Homo sapiens: one gene and its partner. The protein of the gene in region 2 purifies or fractionates together with the protein of the main gene of each other region. This does not show direct contact. Each region holds a gene or a part of one and is shown on either strand. Other genes may lie near its edges.

Evidence for each region.
Region 1: the proteins of ACOT11 (region 2) and THUMPD3 purify together in Homo sapiens (affinity purification with mass spectrometry; 3 studies listed by BioGRID and IntAct, with this or other methods). This does not show direct contact.

The regions. Positions count from the first base shown.
Region 1 is NC_000003.12:9,357,935-9,366,266, reverse strand, and holds the start of THUMPD3 (tRNA (guanine(6)-N(2))-methyltransferase THUMP3), read right to left. Parts: upstream 3,214-8,332; 5' UTR 3,140-3,213; exon of another isoform or gene 2,074-3,139; intron 1,252-2,073; 5' UTR 1,199-1,251; coding exon 947-1,198; intron 1-946. UniProt on the Homo sapiens protein: Catalytic subunit of the THUMPD3-TRM112 methyltransferase complex, that specifically mediates the S-adenosyl-L-methionine-dependent N(2)-methylation of guanosine nucleotide at position 6 (m2G6) in tRNAs.
Region 2 is NC_000001.11:54,607,228-54,610,829, reverse strand, and holds the end of ACOT11 (acyl-coenzyme A thioesterase 11), read right to left. Parts: coding exon 3,565-3,602; intron 2,889-3,564; coding exon 2,762-2,888; intron 1,874-2,761; coding exon 1,718-1,873; 3' UTR 1,563-1,717; coding exon of another isoform or gene 889-1,562; 3' UTR 501-888; downstream 1-500. Other genes in the region: protein FAM151A, read left to right, coding at 275-418, 889-1,562. UniProt on the Homo sapiens protein: Has an acyl-CoA thioesterase activity with a preference for the long chain fatty acyl-CoA thioesters hexadecanoyl-CoA/palmitoyl-CoA and tetradecanoyl-CoA/myristoyl-CoA which are the main substrates in the mitochondrial beta-oxidation pathway.

The DNA of each region.
Region 1 (8,332 bases), on a different chromosome or scaffold from region 2:
TTATGATAGTGAGATTGCAGTTTTCTGACCTTCACTTTTTACCTTGAGTGAGTCCTAATTACTTCTGAGCAAGAATTTTTGATGCAAATTAAAAGGAAAATCTCTTTTATGTTTCATCACCAAAGGTTAAACATCTGCTATATGCTGAAGTAAATAAATACTGAGATACTTAGAGAATTTCTTAAGTTGAACAGTATTCTTTCTGGTGAATTCAATCCTCAAGAAATACTAGATCACCTCTAAAAATGTAGCAATCCTACTACAGGTTGAGCAGCCCACATCTAAAAATCTGAAACTTTTTGAGCCCCAACACAATGCTGAAAGGAAATGCTCAGTGCAGCATTTCGGATTTTCAGATTAGAAATGCTCAACTGGCAGGCCGAGCGCAGTGGCTCAGGCCTGTAATCCCAGCACTTTGGGAGGTCGAGGCGGGTGGATCACGGGGTTAGGAGTTCGAGACCAGCCTGGCCAGGATGGTGAAACCCCGTTTCTACTAAATATACAAAAATTAGCCAGATGCGGTGGCGGGCGCCTGTAGTCCCAGCTACTGGGGAGGCTGAGGCAGGAGAATTGCTTGAACCTGGGAGGCGGAGGTTGCAGTGAGCCAAGATCGCGCCATTGCACTCCAGCCTGATGACAGAGCAAGACTCTGTCTCAAAGAAAAAGAAAAAAAAAAGAAATGCTCAACTGGCAAGTATAATGCAAATATTCCAAAACTCCCCCCACCCCCCTCCAAAAATCTGAAACACTTTTGGTCCTAAGGGATACTGAAACTACAGTCAAAATTACAAATCAGTACTCAATAGAAAATGCAGTAACTTTAAAATCACCTGATTTGGGGCAGAGCAATGAAAATCAGAAAGGATTCCAGAAGGGTCTATAAAATGAAAAGTAACCATAAAATGATCAACTTAGAAAACTATTTTAAATATTGCTCCATTCAAACCTGTGCCAGACTTTCCACTGAAATGACAAAATATATCTTGCCACGGTCTCTGCTGATTTTGCATGATGACCCAAGTTTCTCTCTGACTTCATCTGCAGCTGTTTGCTCAAAGCCAGTAGGTACAGTGGCTCCAATAGTGACTAGAAGCTCAGATTCACTTCCGAGGTCACTTTCTGTCACTTGTACAGACTTCTGGTTCTCATGAAGGTTCACATCTAGGAGTTGGTTAGTGGCTTCTTCAATGTCACACATGTTGGCTGTGCTTCCAAGATCCCTAACACTGTCTCTTTAAAAGCAGTACTGTCCTTTAAAAGAAAAAGAAATAAAGCCCAAATATTATCATCTCATATTTCAGTTATAATTAAAAACATGGGCTCTGGAGGGCAGGAAGAACAAGGCAACACATCTGATAAACAGTCACCAAAGTAAAAAGGGTTGAATAAACATGGGCACAGAGTGCAGGCTGTAAAACATGATGTTATTATTAAAGAAGCAATACAGATACCATGGGAGAAAAAGAGACAAGAAGTATTTCCATAGCATGCAATGTTTGCTTTGGGGTAACCCATGTTGACAAAAGCCATTTCATAACTACGACAGAAACTGCAGATCACATTCAAATCCATTTCTGCATCTAGATGTTAAGAACATGGTTAGTTAAGAATATAGGGCTTGGCTGGGCGTGGTGGCTCACACCTGTAATCCCAGCACTTTGGGAGGCCGAGGCGGGCAGATTGCCTGAGGTCAGGAGTTCAAGACCAGCCTGGCCCACATGGTGAAACCCCGTCTCTACTAAAAATACAAACATTAGCCAGGTGTGGTGGTGGGAGCCTGTAATCCCAGCTACTTGGGAGGCTGAGGGAGGAGAATTGCTTGAATCCGGGAGGTGGAGATTGCAGTGAGCTGAGATCATGCCACTGCACTCCGGCTGGGGTAACAGAACAAGACTCTGTCTCAAAAAAATAAATAAATAAATAAAATAAATAATAATAATAATAATAATATGGGGCTTTTGGAGTTTCAGATAGATACAGGTTTGAATTCTTGCCTCCACCATCATAGGTTGAATGACTTATGGCAAATTAATTCTCCCAAACCTTCAAATGTAATTAAGTAATTAGTAATACCTCTTTCCTAGAGTCGTTAGGAGACAAGTGAGAGTAGTACCTGGTTAGGCCAATAATTAAAACTTATTAATAGGCTATCTATCTTCTTCCCTCCTGTGAAATAGCATTTCATGCATTTAAAAATGATTAACTGGGCTGGGCACACTGGCTCATGCCTGTAATCCCAGCACTTTAGGGAGCTGAGGTGAGTAGATTGCTTGAGGCCAAGAGTTCGAGACCAATCTGCGTAAGATGGCAAAATCTCATCTCTACCAAAAACACAAAAAATAGCTGGGCGTGGTGGTGGGCGCCTGGAGTCCAGCTACTTGGGAGGCTGAGGTGGGAGGACTGCACTCCAGCCTGGGTGACACAGTGAGGCCCTGTCTCAAAAAAAAAAAAAAAAAAAAAGAAAAAATTAAAAATAAAAATGGTTAACTGAATACTTACTATCTAATGATTACAAATGTTCAAACGCCTACTACTTGCCAGACTCTGGGATCCATAGATGGGCATCAGGAGAGAGATCTTGGAAGTAATCCGAAATAGTAAAACAAATTTCCTATGCATAAGCTTTTGTGTGTGCTTGGGGTGGGGGCCGGGGGAAGTATTAGAGAGGTGGAGGGGCCATAGCTTACACGAGATTTTCAAAAGGTCTGTGACTCAAAATAACTTAATTGAGTACAGAATACCTATAATGTCCTTGTGCTGTGCCAGCGATACACGACAGTGTTTAACACTACGTCAGTTCCCGCCGTTAAAAAGCTGACAGTCACTGTGAATACAATCTCCATCTTCTAAAAAATGCAGCTGAGGTCAGCTAAAGGACGCGTTCCGCACAAGGTCAGAGAGCCAATGAGAGGCGCAGAATGAAAGAGAACTCACGTCTCCCAACTCCCACCTACAGGGCCCGGGAATCCTAGGGAGCGGGTAAAGGCCTGGGAGAGGGAGCAAGATGGGCTCCGCCACGAGATCCGCCTGAAGTCCGGCTCGGCGCCGGCCTCAACTGCAAGAGGAAGGCCACCCCTCTCTCCCCAAGCTGAAACACCAGAAGAGCCACACTCGGCCGTTCCCAACCGCCGCCAGTTACCGGCCGCCAGCGAAGACCCTTTCAGCTCCCACACTCCATTGGCCTCTTGCGGTCAGGTCACGCCGCCGGAAGCCGCCCCCGGAAACGGAAGTCAGGCTACGAGTCACGGTGGCTCCGCGCTGGCGGCGGGTTCCCCCACAAGGTCTTGGGGAAAGGAGCATGCGCTGGAAGCTGTGTGCTGTTGGTTTTGAGGATCTTCAGTAAGCTGAAAGCGGAGAGTCAGGGGCCTTGTGTCCTACCATGGTATTTGCTAACGTTTAGAGAGTGCTTCCCCTTGCCGAGCACTGGGTAAGCGCTTCACATGCGTCATCTCATTTGGAACAAGTCTCTTTTGTTCTAGCACCTATGAAGTGGCAGAGACTGATTTCTGTTTTAAAGCTGGAGACACCGAGTCTCTCCAGCTTATTTAAATATCTTTCTCAAAATGTCATGCCACTAGTTCCTGATTTCTGTATTGCCATCACTATTTTAGCACTGTTTACTTCATATTTTTCTTTAGTTTAAAAAAAATAGAAATAGTGGGGCTCACTATGTTGCCTAAGCTGGTCTCGAACATCTGGGTTCAAGTGATTCTTCTGTCTAGCCCTCCTAAAGTGCTGGGATTACAGGCATGAGCCACTGTGCCCAATCAGATGAACTTTATTTCTCATAAAGGGTTGAACCTGGCCGGGCACAGTGGCTCATGCCTGTAATCCCAGCACTTTGGGAGGCTGAGGCGGGTGGATCACTTGAGGTCAGGAGTTTGAGGCCAGGCTGGCCAACATGGTGAAACTCCATCTCTACTAAAAATACAAAAGTTAGCTGGATGTGGTGGCCTGCACCTGTAGTCCTAGCTACTTGGGAAGATGAAGCAGAAGAGTTGCTTACCCAGGAGGCAGAGGTTGCAGAGAGCCAAGATTGTGCCACTGCACTCCAGTCTGGGAGCAAGACATCATCTCAAAAAAAAAAAAAAAAAAAAAAAAAAAGAGTTGAACCTGCATGGTAGCCATTTTGACAGACTGGGAAGCCTAGCTTCCAGTCAGAAGCCAAAAACAGGCACTTCCAGGGTTGGAAGAATAAGACAGGGATTTATGCTAAACACAGTGGCCAAATATACATGTTAAATAAACTGTAAGAGGGGTCACGAATATTTATGAAAGGAGCAATTTGTGCATGTGCAGTTGAGCTTCATGCCTCTCTGTGGATCCCATGTTTAAAAAATGGTGGCCTTAGCATGATCCAAGGGTAGAGTTTTCTACCGCTTGACTTCAAAAGGTGAAGCAGGGGATGTGAAAACCCTCACTGCACGTCCTCTGTCGACTGGCCAGAACCACTCCCTGGATGGTGGGTGATCTCTTATCAGGAAGGAATGCTAGTCGGTTGTTCTATTGAAACTGCAAATGGGAGGGTCAGCATCAGGCTGGTGGAGTGAGTCTTTCAAAAGGGCTGGTTTCTGTTTAACCCTTAGGAAAGAAAATCTAATGGCGATTATAGAGGGAGGGGTTATAAAGAGGTGTGTCCGACTTCCCATCCTGTCATGAGTAGGAACTCAGCTTCCAAGTTTTTTCTAGGGTCTCCTTGGCCAAGAGAGGGCCTGTTCAGTCAGTTGGGGGGCATAGAATTTTATTTTTATTTTTCAGTTGACAAAAGTTAACTTATTGTGAAAGGAACCCAACAACAAAAAGATAAACCGAATTTAAAACAAAACAAAACCAAAAAGAACACAATTTATAAATGTGCAAAGGGGCTGGGAGTGGTGGTTCATGCCTGTAGTCCCAGCGCTTTGGGAGGCTGAGGTGAGTGGCTCGCTTGAGCTCAGAGTTTGAGACTAGCTCTGGCAACATGGCAAAACTCTGTCGCTACAAAAAAATGACAAAAATTAGCTAGGCATGGTGACACTCACCTGTAGTCCCAGCTACTCGGGAGGCTGAGACAGGAGAATAGCTTGAGCTGGGGAGGTTGAGGCTGTAATGAGTTATGATCACATCACTGCACTTCAGCCCAGGTGACAGAGTGAGACCTTGTCTCAAAAATAAAATGAAAAATATGTAAAGGGCTTGAATAGATATTTCTCCAAAAGATGGACAAATGGCCAATAAGCACATGAAAAGATGCTGAACATCATTAGTCATTAGGGAATTGCAAATTAATCACAATGGGATACTCATCAAAATGACTAAAAGTAAAAAACAAAAAATCAACAGTTCCAAGTTCTAATGAGTATGTGGGGCAATGGAGCACTTATACATTGCTGATGAAAATACAAAATGATATATGCCCTGGTATGTTTTAGCTCTGTGACTCCACCTAAATTTCATCTTGAAGTATACTCCCATAATTCCCATATATTGTGGGAGGGACCCAGTGGGAGATGATTGAATCATGGGGGTGATTCCCTGCATACTGTTCTTGTGGTAGTGAATAAGTCTCACAAGATCTGATGGTTTGATAAGAGGTTTCCACTTCCGCTTCTCCCATTCTCTTTCTTGCTGCCGCCATGTAAGAAGTGCCTTTCACCTTCCACCATGATTGTGAGGCCTCCGTAGCCACATGGAACTGTAAATCCATTAAACCTCTTTCTTTTGCAAATTGCCCAGTCTTGGGTATGTCTCTATCAGCAGTGTGAAAATGGACTAATACACGTCCATTGGAAAACAATTTAGCCTTTCGTCAAAAAATTAAACATAGAACACATTACTCACCAATTCCACTACAGATGCTTTCTGACTTAGGATGGTTTGACTTACAATTTTTTGACTTTACAATGGGCTGATGGGTTATAATGCATTTTTAACTTACACTATTTTCTGCGTATGGTGGGTTTATTGGGATATAATCCCATTGTAAGTCAAGGAACATCTGTAATAGCTTTATACCCAAGAAGACTGAAAACAAGTGTTCAAACAAAAACTTGTACACAAACTGGGCATGCTGGCTCATGCCTGTAATTCTAGCAATTTGGGAGGCAGAGGCGGGAAGATTGCTTGAGCCCAAGAGTTTGAGACCAGCCTGGACAACATAGGGAGACCTGTCTCTACAAAAAATTTAGAAAGTAGCTGGGTGTGGTGGCACTCATCTGTGGTACCAGACACTGAAGAGGCTGACATGGGAGGATTGCTTGGGCCCAGGAGTTCGAGTCTGTAGTGAACTATGATTGCACCACTGTACTCCAGCCTGGGCAACAGAGAGCGTTCCCATCTCTAAACAACAAAAACAACAACTTGTACACAAATGTGCCTAGCGGCCTTATTGATTTAGTCAAAAAGTAGAAACAACCCAAATGTTCATCAGCTAATGAATAGACAAACAAGTGTGTTATATCTATAGAGTAGAATATTATTTGGTCATAAAAAGGAATGGAATACTGTGATATGATACATTGGTTTTCATCCACAGTTCCTAGCTCATAACTTTCCTAGCCCATTTTGCAGTAAACAGAATCTCTTTCTCTGACCTTCTCTTGCCCTCCTTTCACCTGCCTACTTGGCAAGACTCTAATCTGATTGTGGTCGTAAGGCATCTATTCCAGAGAGGGCCCTACCCCATATCCTGGAGGAAGGAATGCTGCACAGAGAGGCCAAGAGGCATCTGAATAGACAGACCTTGCTGGGTTTAGAGCATGTATTTTTTTGTCCAATCACTTTTTGATATGGTTGTCCATGCCTCAATCATGAGCATGGTTGTCCATGCTTCAATCATGAGCAACCAATGAAGTCTTCATGAAAGGTCAGAGGGAGTGCAGGGAATTTTATCCCAAAATATGGCTCCCTGGTATAATGAGGATTTTGAGTTAAAAACTCTTAGGTATCAAGTTGGAAGAGACTTTTTCCCTATCTACATAAAGATAGTATGGACCCTCCAAGGAGAACAGTTGCTCCCCTCCTTGTCTCATTATCCATTACAGGAAAGAAGACCAAGAATGTACCTGAACGGACCCTTTTATAAGATCATGACTGTCCCTGAGGATCATTTAAGTTCCAAAGAGAACTATTAATGAATTAATTTCTGTTCCCCATCCAATCATTCTCCCTAGTAACCATTTATTGCCCCTAAATAGAATTTATATCCCCCCACCATAATCTGTTTTGCCAGGATCCAAGTCCGTGTTCTTTCTGTAACCTCAAGATGGTGTTAAGCTTCTGAACCCCATTGGGATATTGGGCAATCACTCTGTGATTCTCCCTGTGTACATGGTTTAATAAATTTGTATACCTCTTCTTTTATTAATCTGCCTTCTTGTGAGTAGATTTTTCAGTAAACCTTCAGAGGGCCAAGGGCCCTCTGATGGGTGTCCTTTCCCCTATCCCTTGCCCTATGCATCTCTTCATCTGTATCCTTTGTAATATCTTTTGTAATAAACCAGAAAATATGTGTTACACTGGGTTCTGTGAGCCGCTCCAGCAAATCAATTGAACCCAAAGAGGGGGTCATGGAAACCCCAACTTAAAGCCTGTTGGTCAGAAGTTCTGGAGACCCAAACTTGCAACTGATATCTGAGGTGGGGATAGTCTTGGAGACTGAACCCTTAACCTGTAGGATCTGACATTATGTCTAGGTAGATAGTGTTGAAATTGAGTTGGAGAACACACAGCTGGTGTCCGCTGCAGAACTGATTGCTTGCCTGCTGGCTGATGAGGAGAAATCCCCACATATTTTGGGGTCCCAGAAGTCTTGACTGTTTTTGTGTTGGTGTGAGAGCAGAGGAGAAGCATGGTTTGAGAGTTTTTCCAAAGTACAGATATATTCTACAATATGGATGGACTTTTGAAACACTATGCTGAGATGCCAGACACAAAAGACCATGTGTTATACAGGCATACATGATTTTATTCATATGAAATATTCAAAATAGGTAAATATATAGAGACAGAAAGCAGGTTAATGGTTGCTTAGGGCTGGGGGAAGTAGGGGGTTGGCAGGTGATAGCTAAAGGGGGTAGAGTTTCTTATGGAAGTGATGAGAATGTTCTGGAATTAGGTAGTAAAGATGGTCACACATTGTTATGAATATACTAAGAAACACTGAATTTTACAGTTTAAAATATTTCAGAGTTTGAGACCAGCCTGGCCAACATGGTGAAAGCCCGTCTCTACTAAAAATACAAAAACTAGCTGGGTGTGGTGGCGTGCATCTCTAATCCCAGCTACTCGAGTGGCTGAGGCAGGAGAATCATTTGAACCTGGGAAGCAGAGGTTGCAATGAGCCGGGATTGTG
Region 2 (3,602 bases):
GAGCCACCTAAGCGAGCGGGAAGGATACCAGCTCTGGAGCCAGGCAGACCTGGTCCCATCAGGTTCCACTCCTGGCAACTTTGCTTACTGCTTATAAGACCTTGGGCAAGTCACTTCTTCTAGTCTACAAGGCAAGGAAATGAGAGCTACTTGGCAGGGTGCTATGAGGCTTAGAGAGGATGCCCGTAGAGCTGTGGCCTATGGGACCCTAGCAACCAGGTAAGGTGTTCTGTGAATGGCAGCCACTTCACCTTGGCGATTTGGGGCCCCACAGTGAATGCCACACGGAAACCAATGTACTACACGGGAGGCAGCCTGATCCCTCTTCTCCAGCTGCCTGGGGATGACGGTCTGAATGTGGAGTGGCTGGTTCCTGACGTCCAGGGCAGCGGTAAAACAGCAACAATGACCCTCCCAGGTAAGGTCTACCCTTCAGCCCCGGTGCTCCCAGCTCATCTGCAGGGGTGTCCTTTGCTTGGGGCAGGTACCGCCGGTCTCTGTTGCCATGGCAACACAGGTTTATTTACACCATACCCTGGATGCAAGGTGGGGCAGGGTTGCGGGGAGGGAGAGGGAGTACAGTGATGTCAAGAGCACAGGGCTCCTGGCCTTCAGACCAGTCCTCAGCTACATTGCTGCAGGCAAGGCCGGCACCAGCCCCCAGGCTGAGTCATGGGTAAAGGCCAAGAGCTGAAACAAGAGTTTCTCATGCACCAGGCACATTTATAAAGCAACCCATCCACCTGGAGCCCAAAACTGGGTTGACAGATTCCAGAGAGGCAAGGTCCTTGATGACCCCATAACTCCCACTGCCCCTTTAACAAGGGACTCTTAACACCTTATGATAACCCAAATCCTAAACACTGTTGCCTCTGCCGCCTCTTCCAGACACAGAAGGCATGATCCTGCTGAACACTGGCCTCGAGGGAACTGTGGCTGAAAACCCCGTGCCCATTGTTCATACTCCAAGTGGCAACATCCTGACGCTGGAGTCCTGCCTGCAGCAGCTGGCCACACATCCCGGACACTGGGGCATCCATTTGCAAATAGCGGAGCCCGCAGCCCTCCGGCCATCCCTGGCCTTGCTGGCACGCCTCTCCAGCCTTGGCCTCTTGCATTGGCCTGTGTGGGTTGGGGCCAAAATCTCCCACGGGAGTTTTTCGGTCCCCGGCCATGTGGCTGGCAGAGAGCTGCTTACAGCTGTGGCTGAGGTCTTCCCCCACGTGACTGTGGCACCAGGCTGGCCTGAGGAGGTGCTGGGCAGTGGCTACAGGGAACAGCTGCTCACAGATATGCTAGAGTTGTGCCAGGGGCTCTGGCAACCTGTGTCCTTCCAGATGCAGGCCATGCTGCTGGGCCACAGCACAGCTGGAGCCATAGGCAGGCTGCTGGCATCCTCCCCCCGGGCCACCGTCACAGTGGAGCACAACCCAGCTGGGGGCGACTATGCCTCTGTGAGGACAGCATTGCTGGCAGCTAGGGCTGTGGACAGGACCCGAGTCTACTACAGGCTACCCCAGGGCTACCACAAGGACTTGCTGGCTCATGTTGGTAGAAACTGAGCACCCAGGGGTGGTGGGCCAGCGGACCTCAGGGCGGAGGCTTCCCACGGGGAGGCAGGAAGAAATAAAGGTCTTTGGCTTTCTCCAGGCACTGTATGTGAGTCCTTGGGGACAGGATGGAGTGGGAGTGGGCATGATGTGGCCACTGAGGGCATCTAGAGGGTCTGGAGGCTGGGGGCCAGATCATTCCGGTTGTCCAAGAGAAACTGCTCACAAGCCTTGAAGGTGGTGTAGAACTCAGAGGAGAGGCCGGCCACGTTGGTGGTCACATAGTTGAGAACACCTGGGGTGGCCTGGTTGTAGTAGGATACCTGCAGGGTGGGAAGCCAAGCTCAGGGGGACCAAGCTAGGGGAGGGTCCTGGGAAGGGGTGGGAGCCCAGTGGGCACGAGGCTGGTGGTGAGTCAGCCTTGCTGGCCTTCTGGGAGGGCAGAATATTCAACCCAACTCCCCAGGGTCTTAGATTACACAGTTGCCCAGCATGACCTCCTCCAGCTGATCTCCCCCAACCCTTCCTCGGGCACTGACAACCCTGGCTTCCCACACCACACACCACATTGTCATCATGCATCTTCCCCGCCAGCCAGAGGCCCTGGAGGGCAGGGGCTGCATCTCCAGGGCCCAGCTCTGAATCTCGGCCATAGAGACACATTAGACATTAGCCCAGGGATGGTTCTGAGGCGCTCATGGGTTCAAGCATATGAATTCAGCAAACACCGGCTGAGTCTCTGCTGGGTGAGTCTCAAGGCCAGACCCAGGCTGCAGGGCCCTAATAGAAGCTGTGAGGGGGGAGGCTGCAGTACCCCACCCTCGCTTTCCCTCAGCCTCCTCCCCATGTTTTCCATCAACACGGACTGCGCTGCTGGGTTTTATGGGCCCTCAGAGTCATATAAAGCCTTCCTAGATGAGAAGGGCTATCCAAGTGAATGACGAGTGAGATGGAATTTCAGTTCAGAACCCAGGCCTTCTGCCTTCAGCACCCAGAGCTTTTTCCAAGACCATGCAGTGGCCTCTGACTTACCTGTACACAGATTAGATCATTTTCAGCCCCTGACACTCTCAGGCTCCCCCAGGCTGGAAGGGGGAGCCTGCTGGGGGGCCAGCTCTGAGACTATCCTAGCCCAGCAGTGCTGAGCTCAATACACGTGTGGTGTTGGGGTGGAGCCAGGCTGGGGGCGTGGTTGGGGGGACCGGCCTCACCTTGGTCAGCTGGTCCCCCTCGCGCCAGAGGCAGAAGCCTGAGCAGAGGGTCTCTCCGCGTCTGTACTCTGGCGTCTCTCGGTGTGTGGGCAGCGTGACCGACCTCAGCGCGATGACATAGGGGTCCCTGAGTGAAGGAAGGGTAGCAAGGGGACAGGGGTCAGCCACAGAAGAAAGTGGGGGCCTGTTCTGCCCAACCAAGGCCGAGACCCTGCCCCCTCTAGCACAGATTCCTCACCAGGGGGATGCAAGGCACATCGACTCTTAAAGCCCCAATGCGGGGCTCAGGGCCAGGCTGGAGGGAGGAGGTACCTGTGGGTTAGCACTGAATTCACCAGGAGCCAACCTGACTTCACTGTGGACTTTCTGGAAAAGCCACTCCACTTCAACGCTCAGGGGAAGACTCGTGGGCTTTGGGATTTTTTTTCTGTCCCTGTCTCTCCAGCAAAAGAGATGTTTAGGCCCTCCAGCCCACACAGGGCTGTCAGAGGGAGGAGGCCAAGGAGGTGGCCACGTGAGAAATATCCTGCCCAAGGCCTGCATCGAGGCAGCCTGAGCCACCCTGGGTAAGGGTGGCCCTGCTCTAGGGAATGCGACAAGAGGGGAAATGTGTGCCCCTATCCCTCATTTTACCCATAGTAAAGCCACAGCAGCCCAGAAAAGTCTAGTGGTGCCTGGGGCCCCACAGCCAATGGGAAGCAGAGCTCTGGCTCCAGGCTGATGCCCTTCCCTGGGAGGGAGAAGCGGCCACCCTACCACCCTGTCCAGTTGTGTCCCCCACCCCACAGCAGATAGGCACACACCCATTGTCACAAGGCTTCCGCCTCGAGGCCAGGATCAC